Homo sapiens: one gene and its partners. The protein of the gene in region 2 purifies or fractionates together with the protein of the main gene of each other region. This does not show direct contact. Each region holds a gene or a part of one and is shown on either strand. Other genes may lie near its edges. The genes, in order: KRABD3, C6orf141 and ZNF318.

The links.
Region 1: the proteins of C6orf141 (region 2) and KRABD3 purify together in Homo sapiens (affinity purification with mass spectrometry; 2 studies listed by BioGRID and IntAct, with this or other methods). This does not show direct contact.
Region 3: the proteins of C6orf141 (region 2) and ZNF318 purify together in Homo sapiens (affinity purification with mass spectrometry; 2 studies listed by BioGRID and IntAct, with this or other methods). This does not show direct contact.

What each region holds. Positions count from the first base shown.
Region 1 is NC_000007.14:149,717,812-149,721,461, forward strand, and holds part of KRABD3 (protein KRBA1), read left to right. Parts: intron 1-1,657; exon of another isoform or gene 1,658-1,734; coding exon 1,735-1,861; intron 1,862-2,196; coding exon 2,197-2,316; intron 2,317-3,023; coding exon 3,024-3,179; intron 3,180-3,568; coding exon of another isoform or gene 3,569-3,571; coding exon 3,572-3,650.
Region 2 is NC_000006.12:49,549,136-49,552,713, reverse strand, and holds C6orf141 (uncharacterized protein C6orf141), read right to left. Parts: upstream 2,047-3,578; 5' UTR 1,922-2,046; coding exon 1,187-1,921; 3' UTR 619-1,186; downstream 1-618.
Region 3 is NC_000006.12:43,352,528-43,356,177, forward strand, and holds part of ZNF318 (zinc finger protein 318), read right to left. Parts: intron 3,619-3,650; coding exon 2,137-3,618; intron 1-2,136.

The DNA of each region.
Region 1 (3,650 bases), on a different chromosome or scaffold from region 2:
GTTAGTGGCAGGGACAGTTTTTTGTTTTTCTTGAAACAGGGGCTGGAGTACAATGTTGTGACCTTGGCACACTGCAAATTCTGCCTTCCAGGTTCTCCTGCCTCAGCCTCCCAAGTAGCTGTGATTACAGACACCCACCACCATGCCTGGCTAATTTTTGTATTTTATTAGAGATGGGGTTTCACCATGTTGGCCAGGCTGGTCTTGAACTCCTGACCTCAGGTGATCCACCCACCTGGGCCTCCCAAAGTGCTGGGATTACAGGCGTGAACCATCACACCCAGCCTGGGACAGTTTTTAGAATCACTGACTTGGGTGGGTGCAGGGGCTCACGCCTGTAATCCTAGCACTTTGGGAGACCAATGTGGGAGAACCACTTGAGCCCAGGAGTTCAAGACTGGCCTGGGCAACATAGTAAGGTCCTGTCTTTTTTAATTAATTAATTAAAATAACTGCCCTGAGCAGATGAAACAAGCGGTGAATTGTCTTTGCTTTATTAGGGGCGTGTTCATTTTCTTTAATAATTTGTTCTCACAAATAAACAGTTTAACATTCATTTCTCAACAGGAAGGACCCTTCCCATAATTTACCTTCTGTTTGCTTAATTTGCACAGTTAATTTTTGCCATAATTTTAAATTCAAGCCTATTGATGCTGGTCATTTTCTAGTGTCTGATGGCCACTTTAAAGTCCACTGAAGGACTTTTTTTTTTTTTTTTTTTTTTTGAGATGGAGTCTCGCCATATTGCCCAGACTGGAGTGCAATGGCGTGATCTCGGCTCACTGCAACCTCTGCCTTCCGAGGTCAAGCAATTCTCCTGCCTCAGCCTCCTGAGTAGCTGAGATTACAGGCGCCCACCACCACACCTAATTTTTGCATTTTTAGTAGAGACAAGGTTTCACCATATTGGCCAGCCTGGTCTCGAACTCCTGATCTCAGGTGATCTGTCTGCCTTGGCCCCCCGAAGTGCTGGGATTACAGGCGTGAGCCACCACACCCAGCCGAAGGATTATTTTGTAAAGAAACATAGACAAAAATGCTCGTGTTATTTTAAAAAGCCACAGGGTAGGAGGAGATGAGTACAGAGAATAGGAGATAGGAGTACAGGGTGTAAAGGAGCCTGGTGACCCAAAGCTTCCAAGGGCAACCCCAGGTTTCTTCTGAGCACTTCTCTAAACCCAGCACACAAACTAGGTGGACAGCAAGAATGTCTTCTCTCACAGCCCTGCAGACCCGAAGCCCTACGTCACAGTGTGGGCAGGCCACACTCCCTCTGAAGGCTCTGGGCCAGGATCCTTCTTGCCTCTTGTGGCTTCTGGTGGCCCTGGGCATTCCTTGGCTTGTGGCTGCATGACTGTAGTCTCTGCCTGTCTTCACACAGCTTTCTTCTTTTGTGTCTGTCTCTGTGTCTCTTCTGATAAGGAATGAGTCATACTGGACTAAGGGTCCCCCCTACTTAGGAGTATGACCTCATCTTAAGTAATTCCATCTGCAGGGACTCTGTTTCTAAATAAGGTCCTACTTACAGGCGTGAGGGTTAGGACTTCAGCGTGTCTCTGCAGAGACACAGCTCACCCCCAGCACTGTCTCTTGAGGGGATTCCTGCATGTCAGACCCTGGCTATTATCCTGGAGTGTGCGCCTGGAGGCCTAGGTGGGGTTACCAAGTGCAGGGACAGCTAGGCTGTCCCCTCTGGGATGGAACAACCAACCCCCCCGGAGACTGTGCCTGCAGGTGTCCATCACCTTCAAGGACTTGGCCGTGCGGTTCTCGGAGGAGGAGTGGCGGCTCCTGGAGGAGGGGCAGAGGGAGTTCTACCGAGACGTGATGCGGGAGAACTACGAGACGCTGGTCTCTGTGGGTAAGGACGGGAGGGAGCAGCACGTGTGGCAGGAGCCTGGTGGGCGGTGGAAGGGAGGCCGGAGTCCCTGGACCCGGCAGCCTTAGTCTTTCCACCTGAGAAATGAACACGGGGATCGTTCACGCTGCTGCTATTCTATGTCCCGGGACCGGGTTCTAGGTACAATTCGGTGGGGGTATGCGGCGGCCTCTGAGGTTCCGACCACTCTGCGGTTCTTTGAGTTTAAGTGGTCACATGAATGTGCACAGACCTGCAGGGGCCTGGGCTGCTATGCAACTGTGTGCGAAGCGGAGACCACTCCATTCCCAGGGCCACAGTTCCCTCTTCTTTCCCAGGGACAGCTGAGCTGCTCCCCCTCTCTGCTTTCCTGTCACCCTCAGAGCCTGGAAGAGCTGTTGGGGGAGGGAGCCACGCTGATGAGGGGCAGGAGCCTGCTGGTTGTGGAGATCCCCAGGGTAAGTTATCTGTCAGACTTTGGGTGTCTCCTCCCACTCATCGGTCCTCAGCCCCAGGCAATGCGTGACCTCAGCCTACTCAGTCCAGCCTCTCACCTCCCTGCCTCCCCTACTGCAACCTCCCAAGCTTTCACCCCTCATCCCTCTGGGCTGGAAGCCTGTTATGCAGAGAAGCACTCAGAGAAAGCCTGGGGTCACCCTGGAGAGTACCTCCTGCCTCAGGCCCCCCACCCACCACCACCCTGAAGCCTTATCACAGCCACCCCTGCAGAACCTGCTCCAGCTCCCAAAAGTCCTGCCACGAGGCTTACATCCCAAGACCTCAGATGGTGGATGTGCTCCACCGGCCCAGACTGGGCAAGGCCAGGCATTTAGGGGGTGCCAGGAAAGGCAGAGGGCCCAGATGGTGGAAGAAGTGTAGCGGCAGCCCGCCTGGGCATTCCCCTGGGAGGCATGGAGATTAATGAGTAACGTAGAACAGAGGAGCCCTGTTACCCAGGCCCCGCCCCCATGCCCTGGCTGTCCCTTGGCCAGAGCGCCTGGCCTGAGCCCAGGTCCTCTATATCTCATGGGACATGGTGTCTCCTCTGGCTGCTCCTCATGTGGCTGGGAGGATTACGTGAGATGCTGGGTGTGAAAACACGCACGTAGGTGTGAGTGCTGAGCAGCCGCAGGGGTGCGGGGGGGTCACTGTGGCCTCTCTGCAGGGGGACAGCCCCGGCACAGCCTGCACCTCACAGCCCTGGTGCAGCTGGTGAAGGAGATCCCAGAGTTCTTGTTTGGAGAAGTCAAGGGCGCTATGGACAGCCCCGAGAGCGAGAGCCGGGGAGCCAGCCTGGATGGAGAGAGAGCGAGCCCCGAGGGTAAGTCAGACAGTGGGGCAGTGCACGCAGCCTCCTCTGCACTCCGCATGATGAAGCACAAGTCCACGGCACTGCACTGCATGTGGGCTTGCAGGCACAGGCCGGGAGGCAGAGTCACCTGCTGTTCCTCGTGGCTAGGCCGTGTGCCGCCCTCTGAGCACATGCCCATAGCTGGCGAGAGGGCAGCTCTGACTTTCGCATGGTGGTTTCTGTGTGGCTTTGTCACCCTCCACCCACCATGGCCCCATTCAGAGCCCAGTGATGACAACACATAGGTGGCTGACATCCTGGTCATTGTTAGTACATGGCAAGGAAAGGACCCAGAATGTGACAGTGTGACAATGTTAGGGGCATCTTACCAGTTGTTGATTCTCCCTCTTTCCCGACAGCAGCTGCGGCAAGAGAGCCCTGCCCTCTCCGAGGCCTGCTCAGCTGCCTTCCAGACGGCCCTACCAGCCAGCCCCACCTGGC
Region 2 (3,578 bases):
TATCTGGCCTGCCAGGAGGCAAGAGGTAGATCAGATGATCTTTTGAGAACACTTCAAGCTCTAAACTAAAAATGAAGGCAAAAGGGAAGACTGGGGAAGGAGGCACTTTTCAACTATTTGCTCATCAAAAGCCAGAGTCCTACCTGCTTTGTTAATTCTTGCAGTAAATACTCCTTCAGGTGGTAAAGTCAAGCAGTTCACCTGGAGAGGGCTGCTTTGCTCCTCACAGAGCTTCAACCAGGCCAACTACTAAAGAGTTAATTCACATAGTATTTAATAATAAAGAGGAACAAACAAAATAAGAAAAATTAGTTGTTTCAGTATTACCAGAGGAGATTTTTTTGAACTACACAAGGAGAATGGTATCTTCAATCTATTCTTGACTACAAGTCTCATTAATGAAGAACTATGGAAAAGAATAAGACATGCATTCATTTTATGGCAAACTACATATTGCTATCTACCTTTAGTTCAGAACATTTACATGCAGTATTTTTAATATTAAAATTAAAATGTATGATAAATGCATGTTTACAGGACTAAATTAGCTATTGTTTGCAGTAAAGCCTTTGTAAATGGAATTTCACGTTGAAATCTTAGTCTTCTGTCCCCAACTCCTTCTTTCCCTAGCTCCTCTCGTTTTCTTTCTAACACTGAAATGTGGGGGAGAAAAATGAAAAGTGCACATCAGAAGAGAGTCACTTGCTGCTTTGGTTTTACTTTCCCATTTCTTTTTACTTTCTGTTTTTGGCTTTTAAAACAAGCCTCTTCTCCACCCACTCCCACCCTCTTTGCAGAGAGCAGACTTCAAACTTCACTTCTGTTTCTAGGTCCTAAAGAGAAACAAGAGGGGGGCGGGGAACAGAAAAGAGATCAATTGAGAGTTATTCCAAAATGCAAATTAACAACAGGTTTTCTCATTTCAAAACTCCCACATTCTGCCAATCTGAAAATATCTTTTCTCCACCTCTTCTGAATGACTTAGGTCCCCAGACAGCGAAGGAATTCAAGCCACAAAGGAGGTATTATGCTGCTTACAGTTCTTAATCTGCCTCCCCGAAGCGCTGCACCAGCCTCTCAAAAGGTTCCTTCTGTAGGTTAATTGCAGGTTGGAGCTCCCAGAATAGCATTTTCTTTTAAGGATGATCGCTCATCCACCATCCCGGAACATTTCTCGAGCTACTCATTAGAGTTTAATTTCCTCGAGCCAAGTCCCTGGAGACGGTGAAACCCTCCTCCCCGCGGCGTGGACGCGGGATGCCCCTGTTCGTGCCTGGAGAGCCCGGGATTCAGCAGGGCCCCAGCGTTCCCCAGGCTGTCCCTCTCTACTGCTGCGAAAAGTGAGCGCGGTCACGAAGTGCTCCTCAGTCCTCGTGGTCATGCGACCCTTGGCCCAGGAGGTCTGCAACACTTCTTGTGTTACCTGATAATCCTCCACCCGCACAAGCACGTATTTGGGTGGGTCTGCTGCGTCCCGCGGCGGGGCTACACGCCTGCCAGAAATTCGCTTTTGTCGTTGAAAGACAGAAGGGTAGTTGGGCTCCTCGCCGTGGTCCTCTCCACCCGCATGAGGAAGGTCCTCTGCACCGGCCACCTCTTCCCGTGCAGGGTCCCCTCGAGTCCCTAACCACCTCTCTGGGTGCAGGAGAAAGAGCACTTTCTCTCTGACCCAGGACTCACGGTCCAATTCCTCCCCGGCCCGAGGTCCGAGGGCCCGATCTGCCGTTCTGTCCTCGTGGCCGCCGCCCTGGCTTCGGCTCGCCCCTGCCGTCGCGGGATTCCGGGCGCCCGGAGCTAGCGGAGCCCCGCGCCCTACCTCCCGCGGAAAAGGCCCGAGGTCCCCCAGGCTGCGGGAGGAGTCCATGGGATTCGCAGCTCCCTGAGGCCCCCGGGTCTCCATCCTGGCAAAAGGGTCATTCATTCGTTCCTTCTTTGACCGGTTCAAGCAGCAAGCGCCTGCTGAGCTCCGGAAAGCGCGGGACCACCAAGCCCTGGGTGTGGCCTCTGCTGCAGCTCCGGACTCCCAGCCGGTGAAAGCTGAAGACTAGATCAGCCCCAGGCTAACCGCGTGCGGAACCCGCCTCTTCACCCTCCGCCTCTCCCACCTGGCGGCTGTCTAGCCATTCAGAAGAAGCTTGACACAAGCCCCAGTCACTCCTCTTCTTCCTCCTACCCCTGTCCGGAGCCCTGCTCCCTTTGTCATTCGCTGATTCAGTCCCCTCTTACTTTTCACCTCTATCCTAGTTTCCCACCCACCTTTCGTTTTTCTCCGGAGCTGAGGCGCAAAGGACACCCTCGCACTGCGCCCCCACTGAAATGCCCCGAAGTATGTTTGCTTTCCAAGGACGCTCCTTGAGGTGAAGGAACAAAGAAGTTTGTGTGCATTTTAATTAGCTGATCTAATTCTGAAAAGGGTTTTTGTCCATTCCGAATCCACTCCCACCATGCTGCCAAAATAATGGAATGTAGATCAAATGGTCAGACTGAAAAGCTGAAGCCTTGGAGAAACTGGTTTTGGTTTCTTTGTCCTTCTTCCTTTAGAATGCCAGAATCTGTAGCTCTGGAGGACAATGGTCACACCTGTGTCCTCCTCCTCCTCTTCCTCCTCCTTCTTTTTTCCCGCTCTCTTTCTCTCTCCCTCTCCCCGCTCCCCCTTCCTCTTACCCCACCCCCCCACATTAGATATGGTCTCGCTCTGTAGCTCAGGATAGAGTGCAGTGGCGCAGCCTCGACTTTCCAGGCTCCCACCTCAGCCCGTCAAGTAGCCGGGACTACAGGCGCGCACCCCCATGCCCGGCTTTTATTTATTTATTTATTTATTTATTTATTTATTTATTTATTTATATTTTTCTAAGAGATGGTAGGGGTGGGGCTCTCCTATATTGCCCAGGCTGGTCTGGAACTCCTGGGCTTACGAGATACCCAGGATCCCCCACCCTACCCACACACCCACCTGGGCCTCCCAAAATTCTGGGATTACAGGCTTGAGCCACGGCCCTGGCCAGTCTTCATTTTGTGTGTAATCAACGCTTGTCTCAGGAAGGTGTAGTCTTTGATTTAAAACAAGCTATAAAACAGAAGCAAAACAAACATCCAAATGAATTTTTTCAGGACTTAAAATTGTTTGTGTTTGTGTCGTTTATAAAATTCCCTCTGCACCCACCCGTCCTCTTTAACCACAGGGGTTAAAAAAAGTTAAGTGTCTCTGGCGAGGCTTTTAGAATTTACCCATAGGCAGGCCCGCTGACCACTACTCTTTGCCTAAGGTTAACCGGGGAGGCTAGGTCATAGAAAAAGAGCTCAGTTTGTGGTTTCCAGTTCATCCTTAGCTGTTTGTTTTATTAAAAAACCCACTGATGGCTGGGTGTGGTGGTTCACACCTGTAGCCCCATCATTTTGGAAGTCTGAGGCCGGTGGATCACTTGATGCCAGGAGTTTGAGACCAGCCTGGTCAGCATGGTGAAACCCAGTCTCTACAAAAAGTACAAAAATTAGTCAGGCATGGTGGTACACACATGTAAGTAATCCCAGCTACTTGGGATGCTGAGGCACCAAATCGCTTGAACGGGAGAGGGGGA
Region 3 (3,650 bases), 6.2 Mb from region 2:
CTATTTCTCTCTTCCAGAAGCCTTCTTCCTAGACATTATCTGAATGTAAGGATCCAAATGCCTGCACACAGGCTCTGACCTTACTGTCAAAGTAATATTTCGTTCTAAGTTCCAGAATAGAACTGTCCATCTTTTCAAAAACTATACTGTCCAGAAAGGTTGTTTGTTTGTTTTTTGCAGGAAGGATCTAGGGCACTGATAGCAACTATTAGATAGTGGTTCTAAGTTCCAAAGGGAACCATAGATAAAGGAACCATATGTGTTATAGGTAAGGGACATATTTCATGTTGTTTATTTTCACTGCTCCTTGCAAACCAGGGATAACCCATAGGCAGTATGCCCAGAGTAGCATGTTGTTTAATCCTCACATTTTCACTATTTTATAGTCAGAAAACTGAAGTTGTACAAGATTAAGTAGAATACTCAAAGTCACACATTAAGAGTAGATTTACAATCCAGGTATATCTGCCCTAAAGCTCATGATCTTTCAACTATACTACTACCTAATGAAAAAAAGCAAATATGGCTTGTCTATACTATACCAGCATATAATAGGCCTGTATGTGTCTATAATAGACCTATGTATTATCAGCGCCCTGACTTAAGGACTAGATTTATAAAAGGAAAATAAAGAGGAAGTGTATGACCTCCAAACACTGTCTCTAAAGTTTTGTCTACATTGAACCTATTCCCTTTCCCAAAAGACTTCAGTAAAACTAAAGATTGAAGTTCAGGGTATTTAAGTCCAATAGAAACTTAAGAGAAGTGTTTTTTGTCTTCCCAATAATTGGCTAAAACTTTTTAACCGGAAAAAAATGAGACTGGCCCTCTAATTTTTTTCTTCAGAACTTTTTTTTTTTTTTTTGAGATGGAATCTTGCTCTGTTGCCCAGGCTGGTGTGCAGTGGCATGATCTCAGCTCACTGCAACCTCCATCTCCTAGGTTCAAGCAATTCTCCTGCCACAGCCTCCTGAGTAGCTGGGACTACAGGCGCGTGCCACCACACCCGGCTAATTTTTTGTATTTTTAGTAGAGACAGGGTTTCACCGTGTTAGCCAGGATGGTCTTGATCTTCTGACCTCGTGATCCACCCGCCTCAGCCTCCCAAAGTGCTGGGATTACAGGCATGAGCCACCACGCCCAGCCAGGTCTTAACTTTTATGAGCAAACCAAATTAGACACATTACATTTTTATGTTTCTAAACAAAGTGAGTTGCTAGGTATAAGCACCTTTACAATTAATAGTATGTATTAACTCTTCCACTCAAAATTCTTCTATTATGTATTCCCTATCTTGATGTAGTTTTCACCTACTGCTCTAAATTATCAGAATTATTAGAATTATTATATCTTTACCCCAGTCACTGCTTTCTTCCCACAGGCTGGGGACCCAATGAACCTGGATAATATAAAAAATGACTTTAGAGGCCAGGCACAGTGGCTCATGCCTGTGATCCCAGCACTCTGGGAGAGGCTGGCAGGGGAGGATCACTTGAGCCCAAGAGTTCAAGATCAGCCTGGGCAACAGTGAGAAGACTCCATCTCTATATAAAATATACGTATACATACACACACATACACACACACACACACGTAATTTTTTAAATAAATAACATGTCAAAAATGTTACTGTTACTCCTGGACTCTAAGATAAACCAGAACAAGCAAAGTTTATTTCTTGGTTTGCTTCAATTATCAAGCAACAACTAGTTATTAACTTTAACTCATAATCATTACAGGGTAAGAATACAGAATTCACTGGGATCAAACAGGTTTACTGATTCTCCTTCACCACACCCAATTTTGGTTCCCTACTCCACTACGAAATCATATTGAAGACTTCAAGGCTCCCAGTTCCTATCTACAGTGTTTGAAGACCATTAACTTGGATAGAATTAAACTTAAAAAAGGCTGACAATCACAATAGGACCCAAGGCCAGACTTTTGTTTAGTCCTAATGATAAAACATGTGTGAAAAACAGAGGAACAATATACACTTCTTAGGATGATGACAGCAGCCTCCAGACGACTTCAAGTGAAAGAGCCTTACAAATTTTCAGCCCCTTCTAAAAAACATATACAAATTTATGGCAAAACAGAAAACTCAGGCACAGGATACCCAAAGCTAATATTCACCTTTTGCTTCTGGGAAGCACGGTTCTTCTCATCAGAGATCTTCTCTGGATTATATCTTATGAGTGATGGAATGGACACCTGGACAGGCACTTGGGCCGCAGGAATTGAGCCTCGCAGAGACTCTTTCTGCTTAGGCTTATCAGGAGTCACAGTGGGGATCACACGAAGATTGGGACGGCTACGAGTAGCTTGTTTGGTTATTGGCATTATCCTGTGTGGTTCAGGTACAGGGTGGTTTGACGGTTGAGAGGTGGGATACATGGGCCATCTGGAGGCTGCATATGCCATGTAGTGCCTATAGGCATCAAAAGAGGCAGGGGGAATGGCAGGTCCCTGGTAGTTCGGAGGTATCCGAGCTGCAGCAAACTGAGAGGCCCTTGGCATGTGAAACTGAGATAAAGCAGCAGTGTGTGGAAGTCTAATTGGGGCAGATGGGGCTGATGGCAACATGCACCTGACTGCAACAGATGACTGAAACCCACTACCAACCACCTCTGGTCCTGAAATATGACCCACTGGATGGTCAGACTTTAGGAATGGAGGGCTGTTTTTTGTGAGCAGGTAAGGATCCACAGGAGAAGGTGGGTGTGGATGGGACACCTCTGGAGAGTGGGTATTGCTATGATGTGCCTCCCTGCTCTCTAGTCTGTGGGGATCTGAGGAACGTCGATCAGCTGAGAAGCAGTGGTCAACTGAGGAACAGCGGTCAGCTGAGAAGCGGTGGTCAACTGAGGAACAGTGGTCAGCTGAAAAGTATCGGTCAACTGAGGAACGGCGGTCAGCTGAGGAGCGTAATGATGGCTTCTTGCCATGAAGTCGTTCCTGGGTGCGTGCAGCCAATTGACTAATCTCTGCTACTCCAATATCCAGCCCTATTGTCTTGAGCAAGTCATGGATCTTCGCATATTCTGGATTGGTCTCTTCTAGTGATTCTAGCTTTACAGCTGGAGCTGAAGACGGCAGGGAGCTTGCCTTCTGCCTCATAACTTCACTCTCAGAGCTCCCAAGGGGCTTTGGTACGGATTCTGCCTTTAAATCCTCTTCTTCATCCCCATAGAGAAATTTCTCCTCATCTTCAATGTCGGGAAAGCTACGTCGCCTTTTTTCCTGTGTACTGGTAGAATCAGCCAACATGCTCAGAATGCGGGAAAAACCACTGCCATCCTGGCTAGCTCTCTCATGGGGCAGCAGGAAGTCTGTGTGTCGCTCAGGTCCCTCAGCCTTCAAATCCAAATTATCCTTGTGGCATAGAAAACTTCCAAATTTTTCTCTGAGAGGACTGTTGTCTTTGGGAATCCCAGGAAGGGGACCCCATTGGTAGAGGTTGCCCTGAGGTTCCTTCAAGGCAGTCTCTACCATAGTCCCCTTGTTTTCAATCTCTGAGGCAAAAGCAGCAATAGCACCACTTAGTGGAAGGGATGGGTGCCCAGAGTAGAGAGGGTGATCCTGGCTGGAGCTGGTACTGCTGGAAAAACTCTCAAGCTGCAAAGACAAACACAACTGATTTAGTCTTA